Homo sapiens: one gene and its partners. The protein of the gene in region 2 binds, or shares a complex with, the protein of the main gene of each other region. Links are inferred from orthologs where the notes say so. Each region holds a gene or a part of one and is shown on either strand. Other genes may lie near its edges.

Region 1 (7,627 bases), on a different chromosome or scaffold from region 2:
AAAGGCTCAGGCCTGTAATCTCAACACTTTGGGAGAACGAGGTGGGGGTGGATCCCCTGAAGTCAGGAGTTCGAGACCAGCCTGGCCAACATGATGAAACCCTGTCTCTACTAAAAATACAAAAATTAGCCGAGTGTGGTGGCACGTGCCTGTAATACCAGCCACTCAGGAGGCTGAGGCAGAAGAATCGCTTGAACCCGGGAGGTGGAGGTTGCAGTGAGCTGAGGTTGCACCATTGCACTCCTGCCTGAGCAACAGAGTGAGACCCCTTCTCAAAAAAAAAAAAGAGTAGAAATGGAATGACTACTGAAAATGTGCTTCCGATTTCTACATGGACCCTGGAGGAATTTCTCTTTCCTAGGAGCCTCCAATCAGTGCTGTCCACTGGGACTTTCTGTGATGACAGAATGTTCTAGATCTTCGCTGTCCAGTACGGTGACCCCCAGACGCCAGTGACGACTGAGCGCCTGACATGCGGGCAGGGTGCCTGAGGAATGGAATTTTAAATTGTATTTCATTTTAATTAATTTTAACTTAAATAGCCACATGTGCTTACTGGATACCCTGTGAGACAACCCTGTGAGTCTTGGATAAAGCAACGTGCCCAGCTGAAAGTCTACAATCAGAGGGAGGGGAAAAAGCAAAGCCCATATTAGGAGGCTGGACCATAAATAAAACACACTTTAATTATGCAGCTGGGTGCAGTGGCTCACGCCTGTAATCCCAGCACTTTAGGAGGCCGAGATGAGTGGATCACTTGAGGTCAGGAGTTTGAGACCATCCTGGCCAACATGGTGAAACTCCATCTCTACTAAAAATACAACATTAGCTGGAGGTGGTGTGGTGGCGGGCGCCTGTCATCCAAGCTACTCAGGAGGCTGAGGTAGAAGAATCGCTTGAACCCAGGAGGCAAAGGTTGCAGTGAGCCAAGATCGTGCCACTGCACTCCAGCCTGGGCGACAGAGCAAGACTCTGTCACAAAAAAATAATAATAATAGCCAGGCGTGGTGGCTCACACCTGTAATCCCAGCACTTTGGGAGACCAAGGCAGGTGGATCACAAGATCAGGAGTTTGAGACCGATCCGGCCAATATGGTGAAACTCCATCTCTATTAAAAATACAAAAATTAGGCGGGTGTGGTGGCGGGCGCCTGTAGTCCCAGCTACTTGGGAGGCTGAGGCAGGAGAATCGCTTGAACCTGGGAGGTGGAGGATGCAGTGAGACAAGATCGCGCCACTGCACTCCAGCCTGAGGGACAGAGAGAGACTCTGTCTCAAAAAAATAAGTAATAAAAATTAAAAAATAATAATTATGGGACAGTGGAGGGTTCGTGGGTGGGAAGCTTTTCTGCAGGTCTTTCATGACGGCCCCTCCCTTTGTTCTCCATGGACCAGCTGCAAAACCCAAGTCACGTGTGCACATCACCACCTCTGGGGGCTACTTGTCCCAGCATTGAAACCCTCAGTTCCCCGCAGCGAGAGAGCACAGAACAGAAAACAGGGAAGAGTTTCTCTGGCTGGGTTTGGATCTGAAGTCAGCAGACCTATCGGGCATTTGTGTCACATGGGGAGGTCAGAGGATGGGAGGCGTCTCTGTAGGAGAATCCTGACAGCATTCTCTGCATTTAGAACATGCAGGGCTTAGAGCTATCGTGGGAGGCTCCCGCCACAGGAGCCACTGAGATTACAAGATTAGCTGCAATCCAAACCACATTCGGAAAAAAATAAAATAAGAAAGGGAGATACAGGCCCGGTGGCGGCACAGTGGCTCATGCCTGTAATCCATAGTACTTTGGGAGGTGGAGGTGGGAGGATCACTTGGGGTCAGGAGTTCAAGACCAGCCGGGGCAATGTACTGAGACTCCCCTCCCCCTCGCCCTGTGTTTAAAAAAAAAAAGAGGAAATAAAGGGAAATATAGGGAAGGGAAGGGAGGGTTGGGAGGTCTCTTCAATGAGATCCTTCCTTCCTTCCTTCCTTCCCTCCCTCCCTCCCTTCTTTTTTTTTTTTTGAGATGGAGTTTCACTCTTGTTGCCCAGGCTAGAGTGCAATGGCACGATCCTGGCTGACTGCAACCTCCACCTCCCGGGTTCAAGCGATTCTCCTGCATCAGCCTCCCAAGTAGCTGGGATTACAGGCGTCTGCCACCACACTCAGCTGACCTTTGTATTTTTAGTAGAGATGGGGTTTTGCCATGTTGGCCAGGCTGGTCATGAACTCTTTTCTTCTTTTGAGGCAGAGTACTCTGTCGCCCAGGGTGGAGTGCAATGGCGACATCTTGGCTCATTGCAACCTCTGCCTCCCAGGTTCAAGTAGCTGGGATTACAGATGTGCATCACCGTGCCCGGCTGATTTTTGTATTTTTAGTAGAGGTAGGGTTTCAGCATGTTGGCCAGGCTGGTCTGGAACTCCTGACCTCAAGTGATCTCCTGCTTCGGCCTCTCAAAGTGCTGGAATTACAGGCGTGAGCCACCACGCCTGGCCTGATGTGGTGATTTTTTTTTTTTTTTTCTGAGACAGAGTCTTGCTGTGTCACCCTGGCTGAAGTGCAGTGGCACAATCTCGACTCACTGCAACCTCCGCCTCCCAGGTTCAAGTGATTCTTCTGCCTAAGCCTCCAGAGTAGCTGGGACTACAGGTGCCTATCACCATGCCTGGCTAATTTTTGTATTTTAGTAGAGCTGGGGTTTTCTTTTTTTTTTTTTTTTTTTGAGACAGAGTCTTGTTCTGTCGCCCAGTCTGGAGTGCAGTGGCGCAATCTTGGCTCACTGCAAGCTCCGCCTCCCGGGTTCACGCCATTCTCCCGCCTCAGCCTCCTCAGTAGCTGGGATTACAGGCACCCACCGCCACGCCCGGCTAATTTTTTTGTATTTTTTATTAGAGATGGGGTTTCACCGTGTTAGCCAGGATGGTCTCGATCTCCTGACCTCGTGATCCACCCGCCTCGGCCTCCCAAAGTTCTGGGATTACAGGTGTGACCCGGCCAAGCTGGGGTTTCACCATGTTGGCCAGGCTGGTCTCGAACCCCTGACCTCAGATGATCCACCCACCTCTGCCTCCCAAAGTGCTGGGATTACAGGCGTGCACCACAGCACCTGGCCCAACGTGGTGATTTCTAAGTAGGGAGCTGAGGGAGTAAGGAGCCAGCCGGTGGCTGTCTGAGAGAGACTGTCCCTGGCAGAGTGAACTGCTAATGCCAGTACCAGGTCCTGGGCCAAACAGAAAGAAACGGGCTCTCACTCCAGAACTGCAGCTTGACCACTATATATATAATATATATACTTTATATATATTATAGCTATATATTTTTTTGAGATGGAGTCTTGCTCTGTTGCTCAGACTGGAGTGCAGTGGCACGATCATAGCTCACTCCAGACTCAACCTCCTGGGCTTACGCCATCCTCCTGCCTCAGCCTCCCCAGTAGCTGAGACTACAGGTGCATGACCACCACACTTGGCTAATTTTTAAATTTTTTGTAGAGACGCGGTGTCACTGTGTTGCCCAGGCTGGTCTCCAACTCCTGGCCTCAAGCAATCCTCCCACCTCAGCCTTCCAAAATGCTGGGATCACAGGTGTGAGCCATGGTGACTTGGCTTCATATTTTGAATAGGCCAAAACAAAACTCCGAAATCCCCTTACTCCTATCCCCACGACCCCACACAGCAGGTTTCTCTCGCTCTGCAGCAACCCACTTACCTCTCGGAAATCATCCCAGGCCTGTTCGGAGTGCACGCAGCCCCGTTAGCCTCCCTGGCTGCTCCTGTAACCAGCCCAGCTCTGCCTGAGAGGTTCCGCTATTCCCTCCGTCTGGAATACCCACCACTCTCTCCCACCCCGCGCTTGCATCCGGCAATACTGTATCAGCCTCAGGGCCTCTGCTGTCCCGCTTTCTGCTCTCAGAGCCTTTGTCACTGGGCTGGAAGAGCAGTTGGGAAAATTCGGTGATAAATGCATAGCCCGGGGCTGGGACCATCAAGGGGACCCAGTAAGTTGGCTCCAGAAAGAGGACTTGAAGCTTCGTTTGCATTGCACGTTATTTAATATTGAGGAAAATGTAATTAGCCCGTATCTAAGAATTGGGGTGACAGCGCTAAAGATTGAACCCACCCACCTCCCACTCCTCACCTCCAGCCATAAGCCACTTCCGGACAAGGCTAAAAATGCGTAAAACAATGCAACTACTCGCCACCTATCCCTGCCCAAGTTCCAGCCTCTGAGCCTCAAGCCCCACGCCCTCCTAAATATCCCCGCCCCCGCTGGGACCCCAAATTGCCTATAGCTCTGCAAGTCCGCCCTTCCCGGCAGCGGGACCGAAAGGGTAAAGCAGAGGCTCCCGGCTCGCTGAGTGACAGCATGGCCGGCGGCCGGGGAGAGCCGACCAATCAGGGAGGGCGTACGCGACCCACGTGCGTAAACGGCCTCGCTATTGGCCGGCGCCGCCAGAGGCCTGCCCCCCCCGGAGCCCGAACCCACGTGCAGCTACTGCGCCTTCATTGATCTGCTTCGCGGTCCAGGTGGCGGCTGGGTGGGGCCTGGGCGGGACGGGGCGGGGACAAGGCGGGACGAGGCGGGGCCCGATGGGTCAAATGGCCCCCGGTGGGGGAAGGAGGAGTTTCCTCTTGGCCTGAACTTGGCTGACCTCCGCAGCTTCCGCCCGGTGAGGGACGTGAGTTGCCAGGCGTGTTCTAGGGGGCTGGGGGGACTCCAGGATTCCCGGCCGGGGAAGGGGCTGCAGGGGCGTGGAGGGGCAGGACTGAGGCAAGGAAGAAGCTGGGTGCTGCAGCAGGGATGGAGGTGGAGAGAGGTCGTTTCTTCTGTCTGATGAATTCCGCCTAATGCACCTGGCTAACTCCTAGTCATCCTTCAAAACCCCTTTCTAGTGATCTCCCTGCGCTTTAGGAAATTGTCTCAAAACTAAGGTTGAGCTTTGGCGACCTTCCCTGGGCTCCCCCGTCCCTGACTGCCCCCAGCAGGGAGTGTATGTGCACTATCCACCCCAGCCTCCTAGGGTGAGGCCTGGGAGGCAAGGCTCAGTTCTTTCTGGGTCCCCGCCCCCATGAATCTGGGCAGCTGGAGGCATTGATAAGTGAGGACAGGACCTAGGGAACGCATGGGAGAACCGCAGGATTGGGTCCCTGGAGACTTACCAAACTGGGAGGTGCGGGTGGGGTAACGGGTGCCTTGCTTCCCTGGCACTGCCTTATTTTCTGTCCCTCAAGACCTGCCGTCTCCTTGTTGTTTTAGACTCTGGCTAAAGTCTTGGAGGCTACTGCCTTGAAGATGACCTCTAGGGACCAGCCCAGACCCAAGGGCCCCCCGAAAAGCACTTCGGTGAGGAGGGCATGTGGTGGGATCAGCCCTCAAGGGAAACCCGGGCCCAATGTGGTTCTGCCCCTTTTCCACCTGTGACCTGGGCTGGCCCCGCCCAGGCCTCGCAGCTGAAGACAATACTGGTCGCTGCTACACTCAAGACAGGTGCCAAGGAGCCGTGTTTTTTAAAAAAAATTAAGTGTAGGCTGGACACTGTGGCTCACAACTGTAATCTCAACATTTTTGGAGGCCGAGGCAGGAGGACCACTTGAGCCCAGGAGTTTGAAACCAGCCTGGACAACGTAGTGAGACCCTGTCTCTGTAAAAAATAAAACTAGAAGAATCAGCTGGGCCTAGTGACGTGGGCCTGTAGTTGCAGCTACTTGGGAGGCTGAGGCAGAGGGTTGGCTTGAGCCCAAGGAGTTTGAGGCTGCAGTGAACTATGATGGTGCCACTGCACTCCATCCTTGGTGACAGTGAGATCCCATCTAAAAAAAAATGTAGCATCTAATCACATATGTGATAAAAACACAGGAACACATCATGTATTTGGTTGATGTTTTACAAGCAATCCCCGCTCCCTGCACTTTGCGTCCCAGAGATGACCATTTGTAAATTTAGGCTCTCAGGGCTGAGCAGACGTTTTTTTTTGTAAAGGAGTCAGATGAGGGATATTTTGTTTTGAGACTTTATGATTTTATTATGTTTGAGACGGAGTCTCACACTCACCTCGGCTGGAATGCAATGGCGCAATCTCAGCTCACTGCAACCTCTGCCTCCCGGGTTCAAGTGATTCTCCTGCCTCGCCTCCCGAGTAGCTGGGACTACAAGCACCTGCCACCATGACCACCAAATTTTTCTTGTATTTTTAGTAGAGACTGGGTTTCACCATGTTGGCCAGGCTGGTCTCGAGCTCCTGACCTCGTGATCTGCCTGCCTCAGCCTCCCAAAGTGCTGGGGTTATAGGTGTGAGCCACCACACTTGGCCAAGAGACTTTATTTTATTGAGTCTTGCTCTTGTTGCCCAGGCTGGAGTGCAGTGGCGCGATCTCGGCTCACTGCAACCTCCACCTCCCAGGTTCAAGTGATTCTCCTGCCTCAGCCTCCCGAGTAGCTGGGATTACAGGTGCGCGCCACCACGCCCGGCTAATTTTTGTATTTTCAGTAGAGACGGGGTTTTGCTGAGTTGCCCAGGGTTGTCTCAAACTCCTGACCTCAGGTGTTCTGCTCACCTCGGCCTCCCAAAGTGCTGGGATTACAGGCATGAGCCACCTTGCCCGGACTTTTATTTTTAAAAATATTTTGTGCTTCTATTTTCATCACAAGAATGTGGTGAACATTTTAGACTTTAGGCCAAAGTGCAAAATGGAAGATGCTCTTTACTGAAATAAGAGAGGCCGGGCGCGGTGGTTCATGCCTGTCATTCCAGCACTTTAGGAGGCCGAGGCGGGTAGATCATGAGGTCAGGAGGTTGAGACCAGCCTGGCCAAGATGGTGAAACCCCATCTCTACTAAAAATACAAAAATAAGCCAGGTGTGTTGCCGGGGGCGGGCGGGGGAGGGGGGCGCGGGCGCATGTAATCCCAGCTACTCGGGAGGCTGAGGCAGGAGAATCGCTTGAACCCGGGAGGCAGAGTTTGCAGTGAGCTGAGATTGTGCCACTGCACTCCAGCCTGGGCGACAGAGCAAGACTCGGTTTCCAAAAAAAAAAAAAAAAGCAAAAACCACAATTACTTTTGCACCAACCTAATGCCTATGCCATGTTGAGGTGGAGACCGGGGGTCTTGGGTGTTGGAGCATTGTAAGTTTTATGTAACCTTGCTTTGACCTTTCCAGCCTTGTCCTGGGATCTCGAACTCTGAGAGCTCTCCGACGCTGAATTATCAGGGCATTCTAAATCGGCTCAAGCAGTTCCCCAGGTGAGAGCAATTCCAGGGGCCGGAGGTCTCACGCTGGGAAGGAGCCCCACCTGGCCTCTCTCCCGGGGGTCCTAGTGAGTGGTCTAGAGGCTGCTGGCCCAAGAGCCAGGCTCAGGAACAGGAAGCCATGCAGATACCCAGCATGGAGAACCCGGCAATACCCATCCCAGCTTTTGATTAAACAAAATTACCAACAAATATTAAAATTTTGATTTTCCTGTTCGACATGGATTTGTTGGCATTCAATTTTATTGTTGAAAAATACTGCAACGGCTGGGTATGGTGGCTCGCACCTGTAATCCCAGCACTTTGGGAGGCGGAGGCGGGCGGATTGCTTGAGGTCAGGAGATCAAGATCAGCCTGGCCAACATGGTGAAACCGCGTCTCTACAAAAAATAC
Region 2 (7,022 bases):
ATTTTGAAAAGAAGGAAAGAGGAATGTTAGGTCTTTTAAGACAGATGTTTAGTCTTGTATTGAAGGAGAGTGAACACCTAGATGTATCCTACGTATTAGACAATACTGTCTTGTCCTTTGACTTTTACTAGTCTCTTGAGAAGTTAATATTTTAAATAGGCTACTGGTACTTGCCTTGGGGAGAAAAGGTTCAGGGTTACTAATTTTGTTGAAGTTACTGAGTTAAGCAGTTTAACTCAATGAGGGGTGGGAGGGCAAAGGTGGCAAAAGGCTATCATAATTTTTCTAAATATTCCTAGTGGGATCAATAGACTTTCAAATTCTTTCTATCTTAAATATTCCATTCCCCCTCCCCCCCAGGCTCTTCCAGGAGATCAATAGCTATTATCACTAATGGAGTAATGGTACCTCTGTAGACTCTTCAGAGGTGGAGTTCTGCCAACCATTATTCTAAGTCATGTGGCTTGAATTGTTCTCTTCTTGGGCGTGGAAAGAATACAGATCATACAGCTTGCCTTTCATGTGTTAGCCTTCCCAGTAACTGAAGCAGATATTAAGTGCTTTTTCTGATTATTTTGGAAATCTATGTGTTTTTTGAATTCTACTGAGATTCAACATGGCGCTAAATGTTCATCCTCATTGCAGTCCTGGATTAACTGCAAACCTAAGAGTAGGATTTCATCTCTTGTACTCAGGGAAGCCTTATTTATTAAGCCAATCTTTAAATTATTGAAAAGAGTGGAGAAAACGATGTGTTTTTATCGAGGTAAAAGTTGCGTAACATAACTGTCACATAGTCACATCAGATTTCAAGTGCAATTGAGTGGCATTGGGTACATTCCGTGTTGTGCAGCCATCACCTATGTTGAAGAAGAGAGAAAGTGGTTATTTTTAAAAAGTGATGCCGGTCTGGACTACAGCTGGCTGGAATTCAGCACCTATTCAGGAATGTGTCGATAATGGAGTGCCCACAACAGCTCACAGCCAGCGATAATTGTCTATCCCTTTGTCTTCATTTCCAAGCGTCTGAACTGAAAAAAGGGAATTAGCTTTAGCTACGTTTGTACTGTATTTCCACTTAAAAAGTTATGGAACTTGAACACTGTATAATGTTCACCCAAATAAATAAGAACAATTTACTTGAAATCTGAGCAAATCGTTAACTCTTTGGGGATTATGGAAATTTTGCTGGTGTTCTAGTGACTCGTTTTCAGCCCTAAGGCTGGCTTTATTATCAGTGATTTGCCGCCTGTGTGGTAGTGGTTTCCTAATGAGTAGGATGCAGGGTTGAGACTGGGGAGCTCCTGCAGCATGAGGCTCTTAACTGATGGGACGCCAGCACAAGACATTCAGTACATTGTGGCTGTCAGGAGCTGGATGGGAAAAGTAGTTACTTTTCCCTTCTTTGCCCATTCCCAATATCAGCAGTCCTAACCTTATTTTATTTTATTGTATTTTATTTTAATTTTTTTGAGACGGAGTCTTGCTCTGTCACCCAGGCTGGAGTGCAGTGGGCAGTGGTGTGGTATCTCGGCTCACCGCAACCTCTGCCTCCCAGGTTCAAGTGATTCTCCTGCCTCAGCCTCCCAAGTAGCTGGGATTACAGGCACCCACCACCACGCCCAGTGAATTTTTGTAGTTTTGATAGAGACAGGGTTTCACCATGTTGGCCAGGCTGAGCTCGAACTCCTGACTTCAGGTGATCTGCCCACCTCAGCCTCCCAAAGTGCTGGGATTACAGGCGTGAGCCACCGTGCCCAGCCTCAAGGACCACTTTCTATGCTCGGTAGTCAAAGGGAAATACTACTTTTAAATGATATAAAACGTTATCTTCTCTTTGCCTTCTTTTGAAAGTTACTTAGTGTTTTACCAGATATTCCAGTCTATAATTATGTGTGCGTTTGATTGCTTGTTTTTTGTTTTTTTTTTTTTTGAGGCAAGGTCTCACTCTGTCACCCAGGCTGGAGCATGGCTCACTGCAGCCTCCACCTCACAGGCTAAAGCGACCCTCCAGCCCCAGCCACCCAAGTAGTTGGGACTACAGGAGCATGCTACCACACCTGGCTATTTTTTTGTACCGTTTTTTGTAGGAACGGGGTGTTGCCATGTTGTCCAGGCTGGTCTTGAGCTCCTGGACTCAAGCAGTCTGCCCATCTTGGCCTCCCAAAGTACTGGGATTACAGGTGTGAGCCACCACACCCAGCCCGGTCTATAATTATAATGCAGCTAAATGTTGCCTTTCTACAAAGGCTACCAATACCAGCTGCCTTATGGCCTCTCCTCTCAGAATTATTTTTCTGTATCTTCCCCAAATTCCATTTTAGGTGTCAGCTATCATTTTGATTAACTACCAAAACATATTATTTTACTTAAAATTGTCATTTGTAGAAATCTTGAAAATTTTGATATTTTGCTAAATGAATTTATGAATTTGAGTGGTAGAAAATTAGTTACACGAAAACTGATTTAAAAAATTCCCTGGGTCAGGCACGGTGGCTCACGCCTGTAATCCCAGCACTTTGGGAGGCTGAGGCAGGTGGACCATGAGGTCAGGAGTTGGAGACCAGCCTGACCAACATGGTGAAACTTGTCTCTACTAAAAATACAAAAAATTAGCTGGGCATGGTGGCATGCACCTGTAATCCTAGCTACTTGGGAGGCTGAGGCCGGAGAATTACTTGAACCTGGGAGGTGGAGGTTGCAGGGAGTTGAGATTGCACCACTGCACTCCAGCCTGGGTGACAGAGCAAGACTCCATCTTGAAAAAAAGAAAAAAAATTCCCAAAAGAAAGCTTTAATTTTAAGGTAAATAGTTATAAATAATTGGTTTGCTACCATGATTTTGTAGAAAAAATAAAAATTGTAAATCTTAAAAGACCATGTGCATGAGTCTTTTCTTTCTGTTTAAAGAACTGGTGAAGTCTTAGTTAAATTGCTCCCAGCATTTCACTTGTTAAGTGTGTGTCCTACAGAAATAGACTTTTCTTTACCTGAGTTGAATACTACTAATATGTGCTGCATGGCATTAAGTTTTGGTTATGGGCCGGATGTAGTGGCTCACGCCTGTAATCCCAGCACTTTGGGAGGTCGAGGTGGGTTGATCACTTGAGGTCAGGAGTTCAAGACCAGCCTGCTCAACATGGTGAAATCCCATCTGTACTAAAAATAACAAAAATTAGCTGGGCATGGTGGCGCATGCCTGTAATCCCAGCTACTAGAGAGGCTGAGGTAGGAGAATCACTTGAACCCAAGAGGCAGAGGTTGCAGTGAGCTGAGGTCATACCACTGCACTCCAGCCTGGGTGACAGTGTGAGACTCTGTCTCTAAAAAAAAAAAAAAGTTTTGGTTGTGAATAGGAAAGAGAGTGTTCTTACATAATTTAGATTTTTAACATAACATTAAAACAATAAAATTATTCCAAATAAACTCTTGGGCTTCTTAACCTTTGGAAGGGTACCTGTCTTTGGAGAGAGAAAGCCCATTTTGGTGAGTGGGACCCAGGTACCCAGCTTTCCTCTGAGCAGGGGTGTCCGAGTTGGGAGTATGACAGTGACAGCAGTGGCCAGCTGAACACGTAATGACAGTAGCTGAAGAGGAGTCACTGATCCACCCCCAACCTGCCGCAAGCTGAGTATGAAGAGCAGCTGCCGTGGGCAGGGAAGTGAGGAATGGCTAAGGGAGCGAGGGGAAGGCTTTAAAAAGCCAGGTTTCTTTTGAAGCCGTAGAGATGATTTACATTTCTTGAGCTGTCTGAAAGGAATTACTCATATGACTCTAAAGCTACCATATTTAAAAAACCCAGATCTGGGAAACAAAATGCCTATGGTGCTAGTTCTTTAAGAATGTAGAAATCAGCTTGAATTTTTGACTGTTTCTATACAGACTGCTTTTGTAGCAATCTAACATGAAGCAGTGAGCATGTCTTTGCAGTGGAGGTGCAGCATAGTGAGTAGCCATGCGGATAACCCCATACTCATTGGCAGTATGTTATAATGTGAGGGCCCGCCTGGCCTGGGTAGGCTAAAGAGCAGTGGTCCCCAACCTTTTTGGCACCAGGGACCCGTTTCATGGAAGACAGTTTTTCCATGGACTGGGTGGGGTGAGGGGTAAGGGGATGGTTTGGGGATGAATCAAGCACATTGCATTTATTGTGCACTTTATTATTGCTACATTGTAGTATGTAATGTAATAATTATACAACTCACCGTAATGTAGGATCAGTGGGAGCCCTGAGCTTGTTCTACAATTAGATGGTCCCGTCTGGGGGTGATGGGAGACAGTGACAGATCATCAGGCATTAGATTCTCATAAGGACCATGCAGCCTACATCCCTTTTGTGTGCAGTTCACAGTAGAGTTGGCACTCCTTTGAGAATCTAATGCCACCGCTGATCTGACAGGAGGCGGAGCTCAGGTGGTAATTCGAGCAGTGGGGAGTGACAGACTTCCTGCTCTGCAGCCAGGTTCGTGACAGGCCATGGACCCGTTGGGGACCCCTACTATAGAGAATAGATGTTATTATTTTCAAACCTTCACATTGGGTCTTGTATCTGTGTAATAGAGGTTAAGACTGGAAGTTATTTTTCCTACTAGGTTGAAAAGACCCTACTCAGAAAGGCGAGAAGAATGAACAGGAGAGGAGAATACGAACAACAGAAAAGGGCATTCCAAGGCGAGGAAAGCTAGTGGGGACAAGGGAGTAGGGAAGGAATATTCTAGAATATCTTGGATCTTGGAATGCCATGCCTATTTAAGGGAGTCTGTAGTCTTTGGAAGGCTGTGAACAATGGGATTGACTACTGAAGACAAAAATGTTGGTGGCCTTTCAGGATGCTAGAAATTTCGGGGGGAAATGACAAGAAGAATCACCATAATGATTCACATGCAGGGATATTTCCATCGTGTCTTTTTCTACAGTTTATATTCTTTTGCACCTTGCTTTTTTCACTTGACATCATTTCAATGATATTCTGTCATTATTTTCAGTAGCTGAATAATCCTGTGGATATATCATAATTTAATTATTTTTTTGCTTAGTATTCAGGCTGTTTCCAAATTTACATTGTAAATAATATTGATGTGTGGGTATAGATGGTCCCTGATTTCAGATGGTTTAACTTAACGATTTTTCTTTTCTCTTTTCTTTTTTTTGAGACAGTCTTGCTCTATTGCTCAGGGTGGAGTGCAGTGGCGCGATCTCAGCTTACTACCACCTCTGCCTCCTGAGTTCCAGCGATTCTCCTGCCTCAGCTTCCCAAGTAGCTGGGATTACAGGCATGTACCACCACGCCCGGCTAATTTTTGTATTTTTAGTAGAAATGGGGTTTCCCCATGTTGGCCAGGCTGGTCTCCAACTCCTGGCCTCAGGTGATGTGCCCGCCTTGGCCTCTGGAAGTGCTGGGGTTACAGGCATGAGCCACTGCGCCTGACCTTAACCTGACAATTTTTCAACTTTATGATGGTGCAAAAGCAGTAGGCATTCAGTAAGCTCCTCCACTTAGGATGGTCATGTCCCCATAAATGAGTTGTACATGGAGGAGTATCTGGTATCTTTCAGGCACAATTCGTACGTTAAGACAGACCCAAGAGGGGAATTGCTGGAAAACCAGCTAAGAATAATGTTTAAGGTCCTCACTAGTACAGGACCTTGAAAGTTTTGAAAGATGTGTTTGAATAGGTATTATGTATACATGTTTCAGAATTCAAAAGGCACCCATTGCCCTTTGTCCTCTAGGAAGGAAAATGAGGTTGAAGCAGGGGTAGGCTCGATGCCAGCTTATTTGAGGCAAGGGCCCATCTCCCTTATGCTTCTTTGGAGTGATTGCCTTTTTTTTCCCTTTGACTAATGGAAACTTTCAAACATACAAAATAAAGACAAATAGTACAGTAACCCCCGTACACCCAGCTTCACCATTTTTCAGCACATCGGTCTTTTATCTGTATTTTCTTACTCTTCTGGCCTCCTCGGGGATTATTTACCAATTTGGAAGATGGCTTTTTGGAGACAGTCTTGCTCTGTTGCCCAGGCTGGGGTACAGTGGTGCAATCTCAACTCACTGCAACCTCCCCCTCCTGGATTCAAGCAATTCTCCTACCTCAGCCTCCCCAGTAGCTGGGATTACAGGTGCCCACCACCACGCCTGGCTAATTTTTGCATTTTTAATAGAGACCAGGTTTCACCATGTTAGCCAGGCTGATCTCGAACTCCTGACCTCAAGTGATCCACCTGCAGGCATGTTTTTGTTTTTCATCGTTTGCTGGCCATGTAGAAAAAGACTTCAGATGTTTGGAACTTGATCTATTTATTGAGGAAGGGCAAACAATATGGCACAACTTCAAACAAAGCTATCATTAACAGATTAAATTTTTACAACTTACATAGAATGTATTTCTACCAACATTATTTGGAGCTGTGGCATGTAGATTCTCAAAAACACTTGCTGAGTGAATTACAACTACCTGTTACTTTCATTTTTTGGTACCCTGTTGCATTTTGATCTTGGTTTTCTCTTTTCATCATCTGGCTGTGTGTGTGTGTGTGTGTGTGTCTGTGTGTGTGTGTGTGTGTGTGTGTATTAATAAATGATGACCAAAACGCGTCTGGACCGCAATGGAAAACTTAACGGTACTTTTTGGTATTTTTTTTTTTTTTTTTGAGACAGAGTCTGCTCTGTCGCCCAGGCTGGAGTGCAGTGGCGCGATCTCAGCTCACTGCAAGCTCTGCCTCCCAGATTCACGCCATTCTGCCTCAGCCTCCCGAGTAGCTGGGACTACAGGCGCCCACCACCACGCCCGGCTAACTTTTTGTATTTTTAGTAGAGATGAGGTTTCACCGTGTTAGCCAGGATGGTCTCAATCTTCTGACCTCGTGATCCACCTACCTCGGCCTCCCAAAGTGCTGGGATTACAGGCATGAGCCACCACACCCGGCCGGGAAGACGAGATTTTTTAAATTACACACTTAGATGAAATATTGTAATATAGTTTGACGTTTACTGTCACCTTGGGAAGCATTTTTATGTA
Region 3 (7,022 bases), on a different chromosome or scaffold from region 2:
TAGCTGGGATTACAGGCGCCCGCCGCCATGCCCAGCTAATGTTTGTATTTTTGTGAAGATGGGGTTTCACTGGCTTGGTCAAGCTGGTTTCAAACTCCTGACCTCAGGTGATCCGCCCACCTCAGCCTCCCAAAGTGCTAGGATTACAGGTATGACCCACCACGCCCGGCTGAAAAATGCAGTTCTTAATCCAAGTTCGGGCTCACATGTAGTTTTGGGAGAAGGCAGAGGCATAACTGCCCCATCAAGGAGGCAGCAATGCCAAAGGGAGAGGCTGAGCCAGGAAGGACACAGCAGAACTTGGCAGAACCTGAGGAGCGCCTCCTTCCAATGGGCATAACTTCTAGAAGGCAAGAGGAAAGTTAGTTAAGGAAAAAGAGTTTCCACCACAACCTCTGCTAGCAGGCCCTTTATTGGGATACAGTATAAGTTCATTTCAGAATGTGTGAGAAAACTTTAAAATTTGTGTTTTAGAAAGAGTCTATAATGAGTGTTCTTGATAAGTACTATATTTCAGTTAGTCTGAAATGACGATTTCAACTTTTGAGATACTGACTTGTGACATAATTTTTGTTAATGGGATATGTTATCTTATTGAAAGTATCTGTGAGAGTTTTCCCTGAAAAAATTTTTGGCATTTAAACTTGTACACTAAAAGCCTCTGACTAGTATTTCCCCCAAAGTATGATTGCCTATAATTTACTGCAAAAAAAAAAGTTTTCTTTTTTCTTTTTTTTTTTGTTTTGTTTTGTTTTGAGATGGAGTCTCACTCTGCTGCCCTGGCTAGAGTACAGTGACATGATCTCTCAGCTCACTGCAACCTCTGCCTCCTGGGCTCAAGTGATTCTCCTGCCTCAGCCTCCTGAGTAGCTGGGACTACAGGCACGCATCACCACACTCGGCTAATTTTTGTGTTTTTAGTAGAGGCGGGGTTTTGCCATGTTGGCCAGGTACGTCTTGAGCTCCTGACCTCAAGTGATCCGCCCGCCTTGGCCTCCCAAAGTGCTGGGATTACAGGCATGAGCCACCATGCCCAGCCCAAAAAAGTCTTCCAAATTGAATCAAAACTTTTAGATCCTGAATTGAGAACATCACATGACAAAAAATAGGGTATGATGTTTTGGTGTTCTTCAGACCCCGGCTGACTTGAGAGGTTATCTCCTGATGTTATTAGGATTTTTAAAGTAGGGTAAAGGAGGTAAATGCAGTGTCACGATTTTGAGATTCTGTTAAAATGAGCTAGAAAGCAGCTGAAAAAAATTCATGTTGGATCAGGTGTACTTTCCTCCAGATGACAGCTTTGAATTTGTCCCTTTTGTAGTCTTTGGTCAAATTGCTGGTGACCAGAAGTAGCTGCCTTGTCATTGCTGGACTTCTAGAAGGATTGGGACTGCCCAGCTGCTGTGTGAACTTGCCTGTCACCTCTGCTTCCAGAGGTCTGACTTGTCACTGTGGCAAATGGGCAGAGGACTTTGATTTCTGTTTTTTATTAAACACTGAGGTATATTTTGAAATGTATGCCTGAAAGATGCTCAAAATGGTGTGACTAATGCATTTTAAAACTGCATTTATTTGATTGAAATGAACCTTAACCTATACTTTAGCCGTAATATGGTGGGAGAATTCTCACATTGGATGACCAGCTAGTTGTCAGTGTTTGACGCTGACACTTTAGTGGCCATCTGGCCCTCCGTGAGCATTGAACTGTCATGAAGGGCCCGATCTCAACCACTTCTCTTCTTCTCTTTCCCCCTTTCCTGCATGCTCAGGGACGTGTCCTCGGAGTCGGACAATAACATCAGACAGATCAACCAGGAGGCAGCACACCGGCGCTTCCGCTCCCGCAGGCACATCAGCGAAGACTTGGAGCCCGAGCCCTCGGAGGGCGGGGATGTCCCCGAGGTACGATGTCCCCAGAATGGTGCAAAGCCCGGCAGCTCCTTCTTCCCATGTTCTCCAGCTTGATTTTATATCATAATTTCTTCTGTCAGTAAACATTGTTGAGAATGTAAAGATTACAGTGACGCAGGGAATTAATTACCATCTGAATATTAATTTGAAAGTGCCTATAAAAGCCGTATTTGACAAGTATAGGTGGCTCTATATTATAGAAATGGGAATAACATTATTTTTATTTTTATTTTTTTTGAAGACAGTGTCTTGCTCTGTCGCCCAGGCTAGAGTGCAGTGGTGCAGTCTTGGCTCACTGCAACCTCCGCCTCCTGGGTTCGAGCAATTCTCCTGCCTCAGCCTCCTGAGTAGCTGGGATTACAGGCACGCATCACCACACCCGGCCAGTTTTTGTATTTTTAGTAGAAATGGGGTTTCACCATGTTGGCTAGGATGGTCTCAATCTCCTGACCTCGAGATCCGCCTGCTGCCTCAGCCTCCTAAAGTGCTGGGGTTATAGGTGCATGCCATCACAATGGCTAATTTTTTTTTTTTTTTTTTTTCCTAGTAGAGACGGGTTTCACCATGTTGGCCAGGCTGGTCTTGAACTCTTGACCTCATGATCCACCTGCCTTGGCCTCCCAAAGTGCTTAGATTACAGGCGTGAGCCACTGTGTCCAGCCCACATTATTTTTCAGTATGAAAATCTTAAGATATTTTTAGTTTGTAATTTATTTTTCACAGGGGTCTAACCATGTCTCATTAAATGACAGCTTGTTTTTATCATAGTTGAGCTGTTGAATGAGCCCTGTAACTTGTTTGGGTATCATATGCATATTTTTATTGAGTCGCTTTGACACTTGGAAGAGATTTATTACCATGAAAATATAAATTTAGGTGAACAGAAATGTGTAATTTTCCCTTTAAATAGTTATGGTATGTTACTTAAAACGTTATGAATTAAACAACAAATTAGCCATAATCTTCCATGCTATCTTACCAGCTCTGTTTATGTACTAAAAATCCATTCTTCTTAGACATTGTGTTAGGAAGATCATTTAGAATGCGGCGATTCAACTTGGAAAAGCAAAAGTAATGATTCCATAACACATTCACTCTAAGTTATTTTATACCATTGTTTAATTACAGCGTATAGCTTCTATGCTGCTCCCACGGTGAATCCTCAGTGGTTAAAAGTAAAAGAAAATCCATGACAATTGTTTATAAACTCCAGAGAAGTGTGTGTGTGTGTTTGTTTTTTTGCCCACACATATAGTAACAAGTGCTGGAAATCAGTCACTGTTCAGAGAGGCATTGTTATAAAGTGGTTAAGAGCACAGCCTCTGTCTGGAACCAGGCCTCTTTGATTCACATCATGGCCCTACCACTTGCTAGATGTTACCTTGGGCAGGTTATTTTCTGTGCCTCAGTTTCCTCATCTGTTAATTGGGGGAGTTATCTTCCTCGTGATTATTGTGAAGGTTGTGTGCCTCATGAGAGGCACTTAGTAGGTGTTAATTATAGTTATCACCGGGGCTATTGTTGTTACATGGTTTCATTGGGGAGCTGGGTGGATCCCTACTTCTTTCTAGTGTTTACCCCAGTGTCTCCTTCTCTGAAAGCCTTGGGAGACCATTTCAGAGGAAGTGAATATCGCTGGAGACTCTCTCGGTCTGGCTCTGCCCCCACCACCGGCCTCCCCAGGATCTCGGACCAGCCCTCAGGAGCTGTCAGAGGAACTAAGCAGAAGGCTTCAGATCACTCCAGACTCCAATGGGGAACAGTTCAGCTCTTTGATTGTAAGTAGTGGCCTTGTTTGAAAGAAAAGCTGAGCAATGTTTTATTGTTTTTTGTTGCTTAAGGAGAATCTCTTACGTAAATAGTGACCAAGGGTCTTCCAGCTCCCAGCTAACTCTGACATTTTCCAAAGTTCCTCCTTCCCTAGGAGAAGCAGGACTGTACTAAAATTAGCCCAAGCAGGTGAGAATCTTTCTTGATTTGGAAGGCAGCTTTGCTCACCCTTATACCACTAACACTTTCTTGGTTTATAAAGAACTCAAAGAAGTAAAACTCCATGATGTCTGTAATTATTAGCTTTAACCTTGTAGAATTCCTTTCCCAGCCAAAAGGCTCATGAAAATAGTACCTTTATCACAAAGGTAGTATTTCACAGTAACAATTAAAAGCCATCAGGCCTAATCAGTCCTCTTAAGTCATATTCTGCAGGATTTATCATTCTCATTTCGCTGATAAGGGCACAATGCTTAAGTGGCTCATCCAAGACAAGGTTTGAGTGGGAGATAGAAGACGTCTCCTAAGTCCCAGAGTATGAACCCTTGAGAAATGTTGTGAAATTGTGACACTGTCATCAAGGTAGCATTTTAACTTGGGCTCTCAACCATCAGAAACATACTTTCTAGAAGCTTCAGATGGGCCCAATGCCTGAGCCCAATGGAATCAGTCACAAAGACTTCCATGTTTGACAATACAAAACTGTGCAGAAATAACCCATAGAAAATCCCTGCTTGTGCATAGAATTAAGAGCAAATGAAGTCTCAGTGTTTCTCAAGAAACTGAACTTAAAAATGTACAATAGTAAATGATGATAGTCACTCCACTGAAAATGGCATCCTAAAAAAAAATAGTCATTACTATGACCATAACAAACATAAATGATAGCACTGCATACAATGTAAAAGCAAGTAAGTACTCACAAAATTGTTACTTTTTGGTTATGGTGTTTTTATTTTAAAAGACAGTATACGCCTCTATTACATGAGTTGCATTTATCATTCAGTTAATGTGATTTCACTTTGAAATTCTGTGACTTTTTCAAAAAGAGATGTGTCGCCAAGATGAAAATGTAGTACTAAATGGACAGGATAAAAGAAATTGCATATATATGGGATATTTGAACTGATAAAACTGTTGTTATAGAAACAACATAAACAATGAAGCCTTGTATTTAAAACCTATAAAAGCAAGGAGGTACCACAGAATCCATGGCAGTAACACACCTTTAGTAAACCAAGTAAACACTGTAATTTTTTTCAGCAATAATCATAAGTTAGCAATTCTAATTATTTAAATGAGGAGCTCCTGAATTTAATTATTCTAGATCTGTGAAATATCATTAAGACCCAAATACAATGTTGTATTATTTCACATCGTGTTCACTGTTAAATGAGAGTCAAATCGGATATTTGCTCATTGGGATTACCCTGTATTCAAGGGGAAGAACATGAGCTTTGGCTGGGCACGGTGGCTAATGCTTATAATCCCAGCACTTTGAGAGGCTGAAGCAGGCGGATCACCTGAGGTCAGGAGTTCAAGACCAGCCTGGCCAACATGGTGAAACCCCGTCTCTACTAAAAATGCAAAACTTAGCCGGGTGTGGTGGGGTGCACCTGTAGTTCCAGTTACTCAGGAGGCCAAGGCCCAAAAATTTCTTGAACCCAGGAGGCAGAGGTTGCAGTGAGCCACGATTGCGCCACTGCACTCCAGCCTGAGCAACAGAGTGACACTTTTATTAAAGACTGATTCTTTCACAGTAACCAATGTGGGAAGATGTGAATTGTCCCCCATCCCTACCACAGAGTCTTCTTGTACCATTTACTTATCACAAAATATTAAAAATGAGTAAATACTAGAAACTGATACTATGGATGAACTTGCCGATAAGGAGACTCTGGCTTCTGTGTGTGACCTGCTGCTAATCTTCATTCATATCAATTAGGCTTCATTTAACCACATAGACTAATACAAACAAGTTAGAGGAATATTAAGACACTACACAGTAGATCTTTTTTTTTAGCTTGATCTCACTATTTTTAATCATTCCTGTCTTTACTACTTGAAGTCCACTTAGAAGCTAAAATTGGCTGAGCATGGAGGCTCACACCTGTAATCCCAGTACTTTGGGAGGCCGAGGTGGGTGAATCATCTGAGGTCAGGAGGTCGAGACCAGCCTGACCAATATGGTGAAACCCCATCTCTACTAAAAATACAAAAAATTAGCCAAGTGTGGTGGGGGGGGCTTGTAGTCCCAGCTACTCAGGAGGCTGAGACAGGAGAATCACTGGAACCTGGGAGGCAGAGGTTGCAGTGAACTGAGATCATGCCACTGCACTCCAGCCTGAGCAATAGAACAAGACTCTATATTTAAAAAAAAAAAAAAAAAGCAGCTAAAATTATAAATACCAGATCTTTCAGAAGTAGGCCAAGATGATGTCTGAGCTCCTCTGAATATAGGATGCAACTGACTCTTTTTCAATTGTAGTAATCAATAAATGTTGGGTAGCCACATATCACTATTTCTTCCGTCTATTCACATCACATTAAAATTTACCCTGAGGGTGCATCTTAGAGCAAACTACAAGACTGCTAGCTTCTTTCTGTTTGTAAAGCAGCATTAGAGTGTTGCAGAGTCCTGTTGAGTCTCCTTTCTGAAAGTTTTGGTCTCCTCTTACTTTTGCCACTAATTCTAAGGACCAATCAAAATTCCAGTCTGCTTAACTGAAAATTAAAGTGAAAGATAACTTTTTCAAGGATGACTGTCCTTGCTCTGAAAAGATGTTTCATTTAATTACCTTCTAATATCGAAGAGCGGTGAATATGGTTGAGTGATATGTTTGTTAAACCAATGAAAGTTGCTTTTAAGAATATATTTCTTGATGCTTCCTGTCTTTTCCTCTCCTTCCAGCAAAGAGAACCCTCCTCAAGGTTGAGGTCATGCAGTGTCACCGACGCAGTTGCAGAACAGGGCCATCTACCACCGGTAACCCATGCTAATTTCCAGTCATCAGTTGACTTTTTGGGCTTTCATTTACAATCATCTGGGCTGCTGCAAAAAGAGTTTTTCCTGTGTAAATTTATTTACAATATAAATGAGATGTTTTTAAATTTCCTGGCCAATTGCCCTAGGAAAGTGGATTTCCAATACAGAGAATTGTTACTGCCACCCATCTCTAAAATGCTGGAACCTCCATTGCTTTAGTTTTTCACCCAAATTTATACCAATTTTGATTTGCTCACTTAAACCTCTTGGTACATTAGTTAGTAATTCCTTTTACCTTATTGAGTTACTATAGTTATGCTCCAGTGATCTGTACTTTGAAAACACATTGAGTCCC
Region 4 (7,022 bases), on a different chromosome or scaffold from region 2:
ATCAGGTGGGGAAACTGAACAGCAGCTTGTATCAAATCATACAGATGCTCTACAGCAGGGGTCCCCAACCCCCAGGCCATGGACTTGTAGGGTGGCCTCTTAGGAACCAGGCAGTATAGCAGGAGGGAGCAAAGCTTCATCTGTATTTACAGCTGCTCCCCATGACTCATGTTACCACCTGAGCTCTGCCTCCTGTCAGATCGGATGTGGCATTTGGTTCTTCCAGGAGCATGAGCCCTATTGTGAACTGCACATGTGAGGGATCTGGGTTGCGTGCTTATGAGAATCTAATGCCTGATGATCTGTCAGTGTCTCCATCACCCCCAGATGGGACCATCTAGTTGTAGGAAAACAAGCTCAGGCTCCCACTGATCCTACATTATGGTGAGTTGTATGATTATTTCATTATATATTACAATGTAATCATAATAAAGTGCACAATAAACATAATGTGCTTGAGTCATCTCAAAACCACCCCCTTCCACCCCGGTGTGTGGAAAAATTGTCTTCCACAAAACCGGTCCCTGGTGCCAAAAAGGTTGGGGATCACTGCTCTACCGTAGAGCTTGGGTTCCAGGCGGGATCTGTTTGACCTCAAGGAACGTGCTCCGTTCTCTCTCTCTCTCTCTCTGTCTCTCTGTTTTTTTTTGAGATGGAGTCTCGCTCTGTCGCCCAGTCTGGAGTGCAGTGGCACAATCTTGGCTCGCTGCAAGCTCCACCTTCTGCGTTCATGACTTTCTCCTGCCTCAGCCTCCCGAGTAGCTGGCATTACAGGCGCCCGCCAACATGTCTGGCTAACTTTTTTTTTCGTATTTTTAGTAGAGACGGGGTTTCACTGTGTTAGCCAGGATGGTCTCAATCTCCTGACCTTGTGATCCACATGCCTCAGCCTCCCAAAGTGCTGGGATTACAGGGGTGAGCCAGCACATCCGGCCATTCCCCTCTTTATGTACAGCAGGATTCCCCCATTGCGTGGGGGAAACCAAGGGATGGAACAGGAGGGGCACACCTGTCCTACAGGTGTAGAACTTGGGGCCATGGTACATGCATCCGTGGCTCCCTCAAGTTCCCCTCCCCCTCCCCAAGGCCACTTATGTTGGCATACATCATTCATTTAACAAATACTTGATTTCCCACAGAGTGCCAGGCACTGTCATAAATACTGAAGGTCCAAGAGTGAGTAAGAAAGTCCATGTTTAGATTCTACGGGGGGAGACCATCAGCAAATACAGCGTAACCCATCAGGTCCCCAGTGCAAAAAGGGACATCGGGTTGAACAAGGGAAGCAGAGCTATTTTGTAGATTGTTAAGAAGCTTTTGAGGCCTTTAAAGTAGGGAACGAAGAGTGAGCATGTTCTCAGCACCTGGCTAGGAAGAAACAAGACCCATGTCTGGAGGCTGACTCAGGCCCCACTGATGCTCGGTCCAGGGTTTCTGTGAGGTATATTTTTACTAAAATTCAGATTGGCTTCAGCTGGGCGCAGTGGTTCATGCCTGTAATCCCAGCACTTTGGGAGGCCGAGGTGGGTACATCACTAGGTCAGGAGATTGAGACCATCCTGGCGAACACGGTGAAACCCCGTCTCTACTAAAAATACAGAAAATTAGCTGGGCGTGGTGGCAGGCACCTGTAGTCCCAGCTACTCAGGAGGTTGAGGCAGGAGAATGGGGTGAACCCAGGAAGCGGACGTTGCAGTGAGCTGAGATTGCGCCACTGCACTCCAGCCTGGGTGACAGAGCAAGACTCCATCTCAAAAAAAAAAAAAAAAAAAAAATAGACTGGCTTCAAATTTTGTTTCCCGATTTATTTTTATTTTTATTTTGAGATAGAGTCTCGCTCTGTGACCAGGCTGGAGTGCAGTGGTGTAATCTCAGCTCACTGCAACTTCCATCTCCCGGGTTCAAGCAATTCTCCTGCCTCAGCCTCCTGAGTAGCTGGGGACTACAGGTGCCAACTACCATGACTAGCTAATTTTTGTATTTATTAGAGACGGGGCTTTGCCATTGACCAGGCTGGTCTCAAACTCCTGACCTCAGGTGATATGCCCATCTTGACCTCCCACAGTGCTGGGATGACAGGTGCGAGCCACTGTGCCTGGTCTGTTTCCTGATTTTCATTCTACCCTCTCTGACTCCAGGACATGGAGGTGACACATGGGACTACAAGAGTCACGTGATGACCAAATTCGCTGAGGAGGAGGATGTACGTCGTAGTTTTGAAAACACTGCTGCTGACTGGCCGGAAATGCAAACGTTGGCTGGTGCTTTTGATTCAGACCGGTGGGGCTTCCGGCCTCGCACGGTGGTTCTGCACGGAAAGTCAGGAATTGGGAAATCGGCTCTAGCCAGAAGGATCGTGCTGTGCTGGGCGCAAGGTGGACTCTACCAGGGAATGTTCTCCTACGTCTTCTTCCTCCCCGTTAGAGAGATGCAGCGGAAGAAGGAGAGCAGTGTCACAGAGTTCATCTCCAGGGAGTGGCCAGACTCCCAGGCTCCGGTGACGGAGATCATGTCCCGACCAGAAAGGCTGTTGTTCATCATTGACGGTTTCGATGACCTGGGCTCTGTCCTCAACAATGACACAAAGCTCTGCAAAGACTGGGCTGAGAAGCAGCCTCCGTTCACCCTCATACGCAGTCTGCTGAGGAAGGTCCTGCTCCCTGAGTCCTTCCTGATCGTCACCGTCAGAGACGTGGGCACAGAGAAGCTCAAGTCAGAGGTCGTGTCTCCCCGTTACCTGTTAGTTAGAGGAATCTCCGGGGAACAAAGAATCCACTTGCTCCTTGAGCGCGGGATTGGTGAGCATCAGAAGACACAAGGGTTGCGTGCGATCATGAACAACCGTGAGCTGCTCGACCAGTGCCAGGTGCCCGCCGTGGGCTCTCTCATCTGCGTGGCCCTGCAGCTGCAGGACGTGGTGGGGGAGAGCGTCGCCCCCTTCAACCAAACGCTCACAGGCCTGCACGCCGCTTTTGTGTTTCATCAGCTCACCCCTCGAGGCGTGGTCCGGCGCTGTCTCAATCTGGAGGAAAGAGTTGTCCTGAAGCGCTTCTGCCGTATGGCTGTGGAGGGAGTGTGGAATAGGAAGTCAGTGTTTGACGGTGACGACCTCATGGTTCAAGGACTCGGGGAGTCTGAGCTCCGTGCTCTGTTTCACATGAACATCCTTCTCCCAGACAGCCACTGTGAGGAGTACTACACCTTCTTCCACCTCAGTCTCCAGGACTTCTGTGCCGCCTTGTACTACGTGTTAGAGGGCCTGGAAATCGAGCCAGCTCTCTGCCCTCTGTACGTTGAGAAGACAAAGAGGTCCATGGAGCTTAAACAGGCAGGCTTCCATATCCACTCGCTTTGGATGAAGCGTTTCTTGTTTGGCCTCGTGAGCGAAGACGTAAGGAGGCCACTGGAGGTCCTGCTGGGCTGTCCCGTTCCCCTGGGGGTGAAGCAGAAGCTTCTGCACTGGGTCTCTCTGTTGGGTCAGCAGCCTAATGCCACCACCCCAGGAGACACCCTGGACGCCTTCCACTGTCTTTTCGAGACTCAAGACAAAGAGTTTGTTCGCTTGGCATTAAACAGCTTCCAAGAAGTGTGGCTTCCGATTAACCAGAACCTGGACTTGATAGCATCTTCCTTCTGCCTCCAGCACTGTCCGTATTTGCGGAAAATTCGGGTGGATGTCAAAGGGATCTTCCCAAGAGATGAGTCCGCTGAGGCATGTCCTGTGGTCCCTCTATGGTGAGTACCCCAGGCAGTTTTATCCTATGCCGTGTGCTGAGCTCTGTGTCTCTACTGCTGGGACTTGACATGACTTCCAGGAACTTCAAGGTCCCAGAGAATTCTTTCAGGATGAATGGCCCAGATGACGTCCAGCTGGCTAAAATGCCAGGACCGGAATCTGGCTCATTGTCCACACCTGGGAAAGGTCTTTCACAATACAGGGCCCCGCCTAAGACTAAAGGAAAGGCTCTGGGGTTGAAACCCAGGAATATGTGGTTTATTTTATTATTTTAAGTCAGAGTCTCACTCTGTTGCCAGGCTGGAGTGTAGTGGCACGATCTCGGCTCACTGCAAACTCCACCTCCCAGGCTCAAGAGATTCTCCTGCCTCAGGCTGCCGAGGAGCTGGGACTACAGGCATGCACCACCATGCCCAGCTAGTTTTTGTAATTTTAGTAGAGATGGGATTTCGCCACGTTGGCCAGGCTGGTCTCGAACTCCTGACCTCAGGTGATCCACCCGCCTCAGCCTCCCAAAGTGCTGGGATTACAGGCATCAGCAAGCCCCTCCCATGAATGTGACCGCTCAGGTTTGTGGACTGCTTATTTGGTATGGTGTCCAGGGCCGTGCTGTCCAGTAGAGGGTTCTGTGATGGAAATATTCCATGTGCCTTGTCCAGTAGGACAGCCACCAGCCTCATAAGCCTGTTGAGCATCTGAAACATGGTGAGTGAGACTGTGGAGGTGAAACTCATCTCACTCCATTTCAACTCATTTGTATTTTTTTCTTTTTTTGAGACAGAGTCTCACTGTGTCACCAAGGCTGGAGTACAGCAGCATGATCTTTGCTCACTGCAATCTCTGCCTCCCGGGTTCAAGCGATTCTCCTGACTCAGCCTCTCAAGTAGCTGGGATTATAGGCAGTGCCACCATACCTGGCTAATTTTTGTATTTTTAGTAGAGACAGGGTTTCACCATGTTGGCCAGGCTGATCTCGAACTCCTGACCTCAGGTGAGCCACCTGCCTTGGCCTCCCAAAGTGCTGGGATTATAGGCATAAGCTGCTGTGCCCGGCCTCATTTGTATTTAAATAGTCACACATAGCTGATGCTTGCTGAATAGTGCAGGTCTAGAAAACACACTTTGCTGGACTGTCTCAGTGTCATCCTCCTATGACCCAGAACACAGCAGTGACGAATGTGGACAGGCTGGGTGGACGAGGATTACTTGAGGCCAGGTTTTTGAGACCAGCCTGGGCAACAAAGTAAGACCCTGTCTGTGGACAGGCTGGGTGCAGTGGATCATGCTTGTAATCCCAGCACTTTGGGAGGCTGAGGTGGGTGGATCACGAGGTCAGGAGTTCGAGACCAGCCTGGCCAACATAGTGAAACCCCATCTCTACTAAAAATACAAAAATTAGCCAGGCATGGTGGCGCACACCTGTAATCCCAGCTACTCAGGACGTTGAGGCAGGAGAATTGCCTGAACCCAGGAGGCAGAGGTTGCAGTGAGCCGAGATCACGCCACTGCACTCCAGCCTGGGCAACAGAGTGAGACTCCATCTCAAAAAATAAAAAAAGCCTCAAATTATCACATGGGGCTGGGCGCGGTGGCTCATGCCTGTAATCCTAGCACTTTGGGAGGCTGAGGCAGGTGGATCACACTAGGTCAGGAGTTCGAGACCAGCCTGGCCAACATAGTGAAACCCCATCTCTGCTAAAAATACAAAAATTAGTGGGGCGTGGTGGTGGGTGCCTTTAATCCCAGCTACTCAGGAGGCTGAGGCAGGAGAATTGCTGGAACCCCGCGGGCGGAGGTTGCAGTGAGCCAAGATGGCACCACTGTGCTCCAACCTGGGTGACAGAGTGAGACTCTATCTCAAAAAAAAAAAATTCTCACATGGAAGAGGTCTGGCACAGCACCTGCTGTGTGCTAAGGCCTTGATAACAGGGCAGCTACCTTTGGTTGGAAAACAAGTACAAATGCTTGCTTTTTAGGAGGTGAGCTCATGTCAGTGCAGAAAGAAAGAACAGCTTGCCCGTTACTTTGTTCTTTCCACAGCCAAGAGGAGTCACAGCCTGGGCAATTTTCCTGTAGATTGGCTGAAAACGTGCGCAGCCACAGGCTAAGCACTGAGATGGGAAATTTACATATCATAAAAAGTCAAAGCTACTTGTGTTCACAGCTACCCTGTGCTATACTTACATTCATTCGCTTTCTTCTTCTTTTTTTTTTTTTTTTTTGAGACGGAGTCTTGCTCGGTCACCCAGGCTGGAGTGCAGTGGTGCGATCTCAGCTCACTGCAACCTCCACCTCCTGGGTTCAAGCGATTCTCCTGCTTCGGCCTCCCTAGTAGCTGGACTACAGTTGCCCACCACCACACCCGGCTAACTTTTGTATTTTTAGTAGAGATGGGGTTTCACCATATTGGCCAGGCTGGTCTTGAACTCCTGACCTTGTGATCCTCCCATCTTGGCCTCCCAAAGTGCCGGGATGACAGGCGTGAGCGACTGCGCCCGGCCTCTATTTTTCTTTTATTCTTGAGGGCAAACCCATGAGGTTAGCTCCCTGTTCACAAACGTGGGAAGGTATACACTCAGACACGTGGGAAGGTATAAACTCAGACAGGAGATGATTGCCAGTGGACGGGAGACTAATTGCTCCAATTTTTAGGTGTACGATACAATATTAACTACAGGCACGACATTGAACAATGGATCTCTAGAACTTTTTCATCTCACATCACTGACCCTTCATGCCCATGAAACGATAACTCCATCTCCCCTGCTCCCCAGGCCCCCGGCAGCCTCCACTCTACTTTCTGCTATTTTAGACATTTCAAAGTAGAATCATGAGCCCAGTGTATTGGTGGCTCACGCCTGTCATCCCAGCACTTTGGGAGGCCAAGGTGGGTGGATCACTTGAGGTCAGGAGTTTGAGACCAGCCTGGCCAACATGGTGAAACCCCATCTCTACTAAAAAAATACAAAAATTAGCCAGGCATGGTGGTGGGCACCTGTAATCTCAGCTACTTGGGAGGCTGAGGCAGGAAAATCACTCGAATTTGGGAGGCAGAGGTTGCAGTGAGCCAAGATCATGCCACTGCACTCCAGCCTGGGAGATAGAGACTCCGTCTCCAAAAAAAAAAAAAAAAAAATGTAGACTCATGCAGCATTTTGCAGTATTTGTCCTTTTGTGACTGGTATAGCTCACCTAACATAATATCCTCCAGGTTCATCCACACTGTCAAAAACGGTAGAATGTCCTCCTCTAAGGACGAGTAATATTCCATTAACATATGTATCAC

The links.
Region 1: the proteins of YWHAG (region 2) and TLE6 are in contact, whole or in part, in a cryo-EM structure (PDB 8XI3), measured with the Mus musculus proteins. The link is inferred for Homo sapiens from one-to-one orthologs. Residues at the interface, in NP_061359.2 of Mus musculus: Lys50, Arg57, Arg61, Lys125, Asp129, Arg132, Tyr133, Gly174, Leu177, Asn178, Val181, Glu185, Phe201, Asp202, Ile205, Ala206, Leu208, Asp209, Glu213, Tyr216, Lys217, Thr220, Leu221, Ile222, Met223, Gln224, Leu225, Arg227, Asp228, Asn229; in NP_444484.1 of Mus musculus: Phe137, Leu138, Ser139, Glu140, Ser141, Asp142, Leu144, Gln145, Leu295, Arg347, Asn430, Leu447, Gln470, Met472, Asn489, Asp510, Asn511, Thr512, Met530, Pro553, Arg555.
Region 3: the proteins of YWHAG (region 2) and NEDD4L are in contact, whole or in part, in a crystal structure (PDB 6ZC9), measured with the Homo sapiens proteins. Residues at the interface, in NP_036611.2 of Homo sapiens: Lys50, Arg57, Arg61, Lys125, Arg132, Tyr133, Gly174, Leu177, Asn178, Val181, Tyr184, Glu185, Leu225, Asn229, Leu232, Trp233; in NP_001138439.1 of Homo sapiens: Pro444, Arg445, Ser446, Leu447, Ser448, Ser449, Pro450.
Region 4: the proteins of YWHAG (region 2) and NLRP5 are in contact, whole or in part, in a cryo-EM structure (PDB 8XI3), measured with the Mus musculus proteins. The link is inferred for Homo sapiens from one-to-one orthologs. Residues at the interface, in NP_061359.2 of Mus musculus: Phe201, Tyr216, Thr220, Met223, Gln224, Arg227, Asp228, Thr231, Ser235; in NP_035990.1 of Mus musculus: Ser1030, Cys1031, Ser1055, Gln1058, Cys1059, Pro1060, Val1061, Glu1084, Phe1087, Val1088, Lys1089.

Annotation. Positions count from the first base shown.
Region 1 is NC_000019.10:2,972,955-2,980,581, forward strand, and holds the start of TLE6 (transducin-like enhancer protein 6), read left to right. Parts: upstream 1-4,609; 5' UTR 4,610-4,656; exon of another isoform or gene 4,657-4,665; intron 4,666-5,243; 5' UTR 5,244-5,279; coding exon 5,280-5,330; intron 5,331-7,145; coding exon 7,146-7,228; exon of another isoform or gene 7,229-7,453; intron 7,454-7,627. UniProt on the Homo sapiens protein: Component of the subcortical maternal complex (SCMC), a multiprotein complex that plays a key role in early embryonic development.
Region 2 is NC_000007.14:76,348,970-76,355,991, reverse strand, and holds part of YWHAG (14-3-3 protein gamma), read left to right. Parts: intron 1-7,022. UniProt on the Homo sapiens protein: Adapter protein implicated in the regulation of a large spectrum of both general and specialized signaling pathways. Binds to a large number of partners, usually by recognition of a phosphoserine or phosphothreonine motif.
Region 3 is NC_000018.10:58,327,226-58,334,247, forward strand, and holds part of NEDD4L (E3 ubiquitin-protein ligase NEDD4-like), read left to right. Parts: intron 1-1,769; coding exon 1,770-1,902; intron 1,903-3,512; coding exon 3,513-3,689; intron 3,690-6,592; coding exon 6,593-6,667; intron 6,668-7,022. UniProt on the Homo sapiens protein: E3 ubiquitin-protein ligase that mediates the polyubiquitination of lysine and cysteine residues on target proteins and is thereby implicated in the regulation of various signaling pathways including autophagy, innate immunity or DNA repair.
Region 4 is NC_000019.10:56,024,775-56,031,796, forward strand, and holds part of NLRP5 (NACHT, LRR and PYD domains-containing protein 5), read left to right. Parts: intron 1-2,138; coding exon 2,139-3,735; intron 3,736-7,022. UniProt on the Homo sapiens protein: Component of the subcortical maternal complex (SCMC), a multiprotein complex that plays a key role in early embryonic development.